Homo sapiens: one gene and its partner. The protein of the gene in region 2 interacts with the protein of the main gene of each other region in a pairwise test. Each region holds a gene or a part of one and is shown on either strand. Other genes may lie near its edges.

Region 1 (3,816 bases), on a different chromosome or scaffold from region 2:
GTCTCTTAACTGATGTGATTACTTGAATATTCAAAATAAATTATCATTTGAGGAAATTATCAATTGAGTTCTCCAACCTAATTTGTGCAAAGTATACAAAGGCAGTGATACCTTAAGCTGAAATTAAAAGACGGTGGAGAAACATAATAAAGATTAGTTATGCAACCCCCCAAACGAAAATGTCTTAAAAGATTTTAATTCAAGCCTGTGTAACATAAATAAGGCATATAACACAAAAACACATTTCTTTTTTAAAACTCAATCTACACGCCCACATTTTATAACTGTTGTTTGGGTGTGAGGGTGAGTGAGGAGAGGGAGAAGCAAAGTTAAATGTGTAAAAAATGGGGGAAAATCCTGCTACAATACAGCATTTTTCAAAGGGACACACAGTCTAGCAACTGTGTATTCATCTCCTCTATAGCATGTCTCTGAAACCAACAGTTGTTTTATCACCTGTTCAGATTCCATGTGAATATATAAGCCACCCCATGAATTTTGTGATTCTCTTATTTTAGGAATGCTGATACTTATAGCCATTACAATGTTGCCAAACCTAGTGTCCCACACCCAGAAAGAAAACTCAGTTCTGAAAGAGTCTAAGGATCCTAAGAGAACTGAAGGTGGTGGCAGACTTGTCTATAGCCTGAACACCATGGCCCAGCACAGTGGCCCTTAATGGGGCCTTGTATCAAAATGACTTAATGTCATTCTCTATCAGAATGTTTTCAAAATATAGTCACGCATCGCATAATGACCTTTAAATCAACAATGGACCACATATACAATGATACTCCTGTAACATTATAATGGAGCTGAAAAACTCCTATTGCCTAGTGACATCATAGCACAATAAAACATTTGTGGTGATGTTGGTGTAAATAAACCTACTGCATAGCTAGACCTGTAACAGTATCACACATAAAATTATGGACAGTACATAATGCTTGATGCTGATGATAAAGAACTATGTCATTGGTTTATGTATTTGGTATACTATACTTTTTTATCATTAATTGAGTGTACACCTTCTAATTACATATTTTAAAAAGTTAACTATGAAACAGCTTCAGATAGGTCCTTCAGGAGGTATTCCAGAAGAAGGCATTGTTGTCATAGGAAATGACAGCTCATGTGTGTTACTGCTCCTACAGACCTTTCAGTGGGACAAGATGTGGAGATGGAAGACGGTGACATTGATGATCCTGCCCCTGTACAGACCTAGGCTAATGTGTATGTTTGTTTTAGTTTTTAACAAAAAAGTTTAAAAAACTTTAAAAGGAGAAAAAAAGCTTGAAGAATAAGGATACGAAGAAATAAAATATTTTTTTTGCAGCCATACAGCCTGTGTTTTAAGCTAAGTATTATTACAAAAGAGTAAAAAAGTTTAAAAAATTTATAAAATAGAAATGTTACAATAAGCTACAGTTTATGTATTAAGGAAGAAAAATATATATTAAAATAATACATATTTTTAAAAAAACTTTTATTATAAATAAGTAGAGATGGAGTCTTGTGATATTGCCCAGGCTGGTCTTAAATGCCTGGTCCCACCTCAACCTCACAAAGTGCTGAGATTACAGACATGAGCCACCACACCTAATCAAAAAATATTTTTTATAAACCTAATGTAGCCTAAGTATACAGTGTTTATAAAGTCTAGAGTGTACAGTAAAGTCCTAGGCCTTCACATTCACTCCCCACTCACTGACTTACCCAGAGCAACTTCCAGTCCTGCAAGCTCCATTCATGGCAAGTGCCCTACATAGTTGTATCATTTTTTATCTTTTATATTTTTACTATATCTTTTCTTCATTTAGATATACAGATACTTGCCACTGTGTTACAGCTAGCTACAGTATTCAGTACAGTAACTTGCTGTACAGGTTTGTAGCCTAGGAGCAATGTGGTATATCATATGCCCTATGTATGTGGTAACCATCTAGGTTTGTCTAAGTACACTCTATGATGAACACACAACAACAAAATTGCCTAAGAGTACATTTCTCAAAAAGTATTCCCATTGTCAAGCTATACATGACTTGTACGACTTGTACACCTGACTTACATTTTCACCCAAGGGAGATCAGGCAATCTGGAGATAGAGGCTCCCTAAAGAATGTGAGTGTCTTTCCCTCCCGTCTGCATTTCTCTGAGCGTATATACCTTGTAAATCAAACCAGATGGGGCTAGGACCGGGTAAGGAAACCAATGCTGGATGCCCTTGGCCAGTCATACTAATCCAGCCACACTAGACCAGTCAGGCTAGTGAACACTGACTCAACTGGGCTTTTGAACACTGATTTCTTACACTAACAATTGTAAGCTATTCAGTGTGTACGCTTCTGATTTTCCCCAAAAAAGAGGTTTAAGTTCAAAATATCTAAAATAAGGAGTAATGGAAGAAACAAACGGTCACCCTTTCAAGTATTGATCATAAATGTTATTCCCTATTAGCTTTCTTTATCTAAACCTTTATTTAGTTACTGTCAACAGAAGCTATATGTTGATTATACCGTCAGCCTCCCAGAATGTAACGATGAATAAGAAACTCAACCTTGTTTCCTCTCATGTATCTAAAGCTGCAAATACAAAGATCACTACTTAGGTCTGACAGGTGTACAGCACAGCAGGGTGGCCAAGATTAGAGTCTTTAAGCCAATCTGCCTGGGTTTGAATCCTGCCTCTGCCACCTACTAGCTGTGGATATTTGGACAAGTGACTTAACCTTTATCTTAGTTTCCTCATCTGTAAAATTGGGGTCCCTACCTCGTGGGCTTTTGTGAAGCCACAATGAATTAATACATGTTGAACACTTCAGAAAAGTGCCTATTATGTGGTACCAAGCAGCTATATTCAGTACCCATAGAACAGCTTTGTTCTCTTTAAAATTTGCAGAATATTCCGTTGCCCAGCTGTAGCATGATTTATTCTTTTCAAGGACATTTAGTCTACTAACTCTTCCAATCTTTTGCTATTAGAAACAATGCTTCAATAAACATCCTATATAACAGAGAGACGTTTTTACTATGCTAATTAAATTAAGTCAGTGCCCCACCTAACTTTCATGTACAATACTGATAGTTTTAATACCCTCCAAAGTAGGCACAGGATTATCACCTTCCAAGTTCTACATAGATTCTAGGGTCTCAAGGAGGTAGAGTGACTTACCTGCTGAAGCCCACGCAGCTGTTAAGTGGCAGAGGTGGAACCCCGCATAGGTGCAGGCTGCCAACCCAATCTGCTTCCCACAGCTGTCCTTACTTAAAAGAAGTACAGGAGGTATTCTTTTAAATGCACCTCAGATCCATCACAGAGATTAATATGCAGAAGTTCGGACAGAAGCAAACTCAAATTTTCACACAGATGCTTCTAACAAATACAGCTGATGGAGGCGTCAACGACTTCTGTAAATATTGAAGTATTATTTCTTCTGCCAAAGACTGAAGCAGAAGTACCCTGAATACTACCCCTAGGGAGATACATCACATTTCAAACTCCCCTGGAAGCAAATGAATAATTACTGAATTTGGTATCATGAGAACTATTCTTCAGGGAAGGAGAAATTCATAACACTCACTTTGTTGTAGCATTTGCTGTGCCAAGACCAAAGAGGAACAAGTACTACTCTGGGGTTCAGAAACTCATAAAACACAGACCTGAGTGGCCAATTCGCCAGCATGGCTTCAATTAGGTCTGTTCAGCATGGGCTTATAAGAGATTAATTCTGACAGGATGAAATTGTTGACATGAGGAAAAGGATGGGGTAAATGTGGAACTTAACAGAGATGGAACCTGTGCTCGCAAGAGGGTGCC
Region 2 (3,816 bases):
TGTAAAGCTGCTTCCAGCCTGGTCCCCCTGGAGAGCAGCAGGGCAGGATCGCCAGGTGGGCCGGGCAGCAGAACGGTGAGCAATGCCTCTGATTTCTGCCTCTGATCAGAATCCTGGTGAGAACACCAGGGCTCAAGTCATGGCTGGGCATTTACCACCCCCGTGACTTCAGGTAAGTTTCCCAAGGCTGGGAAGTTTCCTGATCTGAGGAGCAGGAAGAGCCTAGCAGGTGCCTGACAGATGCCCTGTGGTCAAAAGCAGGAGGTGTTGTTATAATCAGAATCCAAGACAGCCTGACGCTCAGGTCTACTGTGCGAGCTGGCCGTGCCATGGCTGACCAGGTAGAGCAAGCTCTGTGATGTGTGTAGCAGTGGCGAGGCAGCCCGAGGGTCTCACAGGAGAGAGGCAGCTCCACCTGCCCTGGGGCTGCACTCCCTGACCTTCCACAGCCCCTATGTGTGGCAGTGGCGAGGCAGCCCGAGGGTCTCACAGGAGAGAGGCAGCTCCGCCTGCCCTGGGGCTGCACTCCCTGACCTTCCACAGCCCCTATGTGTGGCAGTGGCGAGGCAGCCCGAGGGTCTCACAGGAGAGAGGCAGCTCCGCCTGCCCTGGGGCTGCACTCCCTGACCTTCCACAGCCCCTCTGTGTGGCAGTGGCGAGGCAGCCCGAGGGTCTCACAGGAGAGAGGCAGCTCCGCCTACCCTGGGGCTGCACTCCCTGACCTTCCACAGCCCCTCTGTGCACCTTGGGAATTCTTCCCTACACCCCTCAGGTGATGTCCCCCAAGACGCCCGGAGATTCCAAGTCTCTGGGACAGACACAATGCTGCCCACCTCCCAGGAGGCTGCAGGATCAGACTAATGACATGGAAAGGCAGGGCTCCTGGAGGGGCCAAGTGACATGGCCAGGGTCCCACGGCTAAGATGTGGCAATGCTGTGTCCCTACCTGGATGTTACGTAAGTCAGGGCTGGGTTGTAGCCCTCCCCACAGGGCAAATCAGAGGGAGAAAACGAGGCAATCTTCCACTGTGGAAGAAAACAACAGTTGATCTGGCCACAGCACTGGGCCAGAGGCTCCCAGGCCAGCGTGAGTGCCTGGCTCTGCTCACTGGCTTCCATGCTGGGGAGGGCTCGAGCCTGCAGCCTGAAGCCCAGGGTTGCCAGGACAATGAGCAGCAGCTGCTGCCAGTCCACTCAGCTGCGTGGCTAGCCCACCAATCCATCGAGGGGGCCCACAGCGCAGCCACCACAAGGCACCCAGCACACAGTGCCAAGGCATGGAGCCTGGCCCCTGCAGGCTCCAGACACAGGCCCTCGGTGTGGCACTGCTCCACCCAGCCCTGTCTCCAGACCTCTTCGGCAAACCTCAGCCTGGGCCCCGGGTTCCCTGCTCAGCACCAACAGCCATCAGAAAAGCCCAGGCCTCACCCTGCCTCCCAAGACCCTCACAGGCTGACCCGAGTCAGACCTGCCTACTAGGAGTCCAGCACTGCTGTGCCTTCCCTTGGGCCTCCCGCTGCCTGGAGTAGCTGCCTCTCCTGCCCTCCCCAGCTAAGGCCACTCAGCTCTCCAGACACAGCTCAGGCCTCACCAGCATCCAGGATTCTTCCCAGGTATCTACCCAGCCCTGCCCAAAACGCACCCCCAAACCCTCCCAAAGCGCACCCCCAGCCCTGCCCAAAACACACCCCTAGCCCTGCCCAAAACATGTCCCCAGCCCTGCCCAAAACACACCCCCAGCCCTGCCCAAAACACACCCCTAGCCCTGCCCAAAACATGCCCCCGGCCCTACCCAAAACACACCTCCAGCCCCAAAATATGCCCCCAAACCCTCCCAAAGCACATCCCCAGCCCTGCCAAAGCACAACCCCAGCAGAGTCAGCTCCCCTCTCCACCTCCTCACTCCACCGCCTCAACCTTGCTCTGTAAGGTGCCCTCTCCACCTCCTCACTCCACCGCCTCAACCTTGCTCTGTAAGGTGCCCTCTCCACCTCCTCACTCCACTGCCTCGACCTTGCTCTGTAAGGTGCACAGCAGTGTCCGGAGCAAGGCCAGGACAGCCTGATCCTGCTTGCCACTGTGTCCATCCCAAGACTCATGCCAGGCATGGCCTTAGCATAGTCTCACAGAACATTACACATCTCAGACAGCAGCCCTGATGGCAGGGGCAGGGGCTGGGGACTTGCCAATGACCCTGTCCAGGCAGGAACACCCAGTAGACTGTCCTGCTTGCCTGCAGTGGCCCCCAAGTGGGTTCACATCCTAACAGGACCTACCCAAGGACAAAAAAGGAAGGGCCCTGTGCAGCACAGTCCGGATTTGAAGCCCACACGGAGCCACCTTCACCCCCATCCCAGACTCAGCAAGCCGCAAGTTGACGAGAGAATCTCATAGCCTGGATAAGGCCAGGCAGGACAGCCACAGCTGGCTTCTGAGGACAGCCCTGGATGGCAAGCAGGACACCCCGAAGCAAGGCCCCTGCAGGAGACACCGCCCAACTGGGCTCCGTAGGTGAGGACACCCCGCCCATAAGGCATCTTCAGAAACCTATTCAAGGCACCTGGCTTGTCATTGTTGGTAGTGCCCTTCTTCTCTGCCAGGGAACTCAGACCAAGAAAACTCTTCCTATGGAAGCTTCCAGATGGCTCCACCATGCAGCACTAACAGGAAGGATAGTGGAATAAGAACAGCACAGGCTCAAGATCAGCTGTGAAACAACCCCTCACGTCTTCAGCAAATCCCCATCGGGCATTCACTGGGCCCCAGGCCCTGGGCCACAGCTGGATGGACGTTCAGAGACGCACAGCTCCCCGCGGGTGGGGTGGCAGACAGGGAGGTGTGGAAAGGTACAGAGTCCACCACTGGCGCTGGGGACCGTGGGGGCAGGAGGAATGATGATCTTCCCCAGCTGCCTCAATGCGCCCAAGAGGGAGAGGATGAGGATGCCCTCAGTACAGAGAGCAGAGCCAAACATAAGCATCCACACTGAACAACTGACTGTCACCTCTGGAGGGACAGCGCCGGCCATGAGCTCTCCAACTCTCTCACTCACTCCTTCTTGCCTTTAGTCTTTTGGTCACCACTGCTCCACACACAGATGCCACAAATGTTTAGACAGGGCTGAGCATCCCAGCAGAAAGCAGAGGAATCTGAGAGGAGGGCTGCTCAGGAGTCTGCTACTATGGACGATGCACAAATCAGACTTTAAAGAACACAATGAATGACAGCTGGACTGGGCCACAAGGTCAAAGTCTACTTGTAGCAAGTAACACCATCCAAACAAACCCAGTAGCCACAGAAACGCCCGTGTGCATTAAAACAAAAAGCCTGGAGCCAGACGCCATGACTCACGCTGGGAATCCCAGCACTCCGGGAGGCTGAGGCCAGAGGATGGCTTAAGGCCAGGAGTTCAAGACCAGCCTGGGCAACTGGGCAACACAGTGAGACACGCCTATCTCAAAAAAAAAAAAAGAGGTGGCTGGGCACGGTGGCTCACACCTGGGATTACAGTGTGTGGCTCAGGCAGGTTGATCACCTGAAGGTCAGGAGCTTGAGTCTAGCCTGGCCAAAAAGAAGAAGTGGCTGGGCACAGTGGCTCACGCCTGTAATCCCAGCACTTTGGGAGGCTGAGGCAGGTTGATCACCTAAAGGTCAGTAGTTTGAGTCCAGCCTAGCCAACATGGTGAAACCCCGTCTCTATTTAAAATACAAAACATTAGCCAGGCGTGGTGGCAGGCCCCTGTAATCCCAGCTACTCGGAAGGCTGAGGCAGGAAAATCACTTGAACCCAGGAGGCAGAGGTTGCAGTGAACCAAG

The links.
Region 1: the proteins of TSNARE1 (region 2) and ELOVL5 interact in a two-hybrid assay, tested with the Homo sapiens proteins (one large-scale study listed by BioGRID).

The regions. Positions count from the first base shown.
Region 1 is NC_000006.12:53,338,783-53,342,598, forward strand, and holds part of ELOVL5 (very long chain fatty acid elongase 5), read right to left. Parts: intron 1-3,816. UniProt on the Homo sapiens protein: Catalyzes the first and rate-limiting reaction of the four reactions that constitute the long-chain fatty acids elongation cycle.
Region 2 is NC_000008.11:142,396,582-142,400,397, forward strand, and holds part of TSNARE1 (t-SNARE domain-containing protein 1), read right to left. Parts: intron 1-3,816.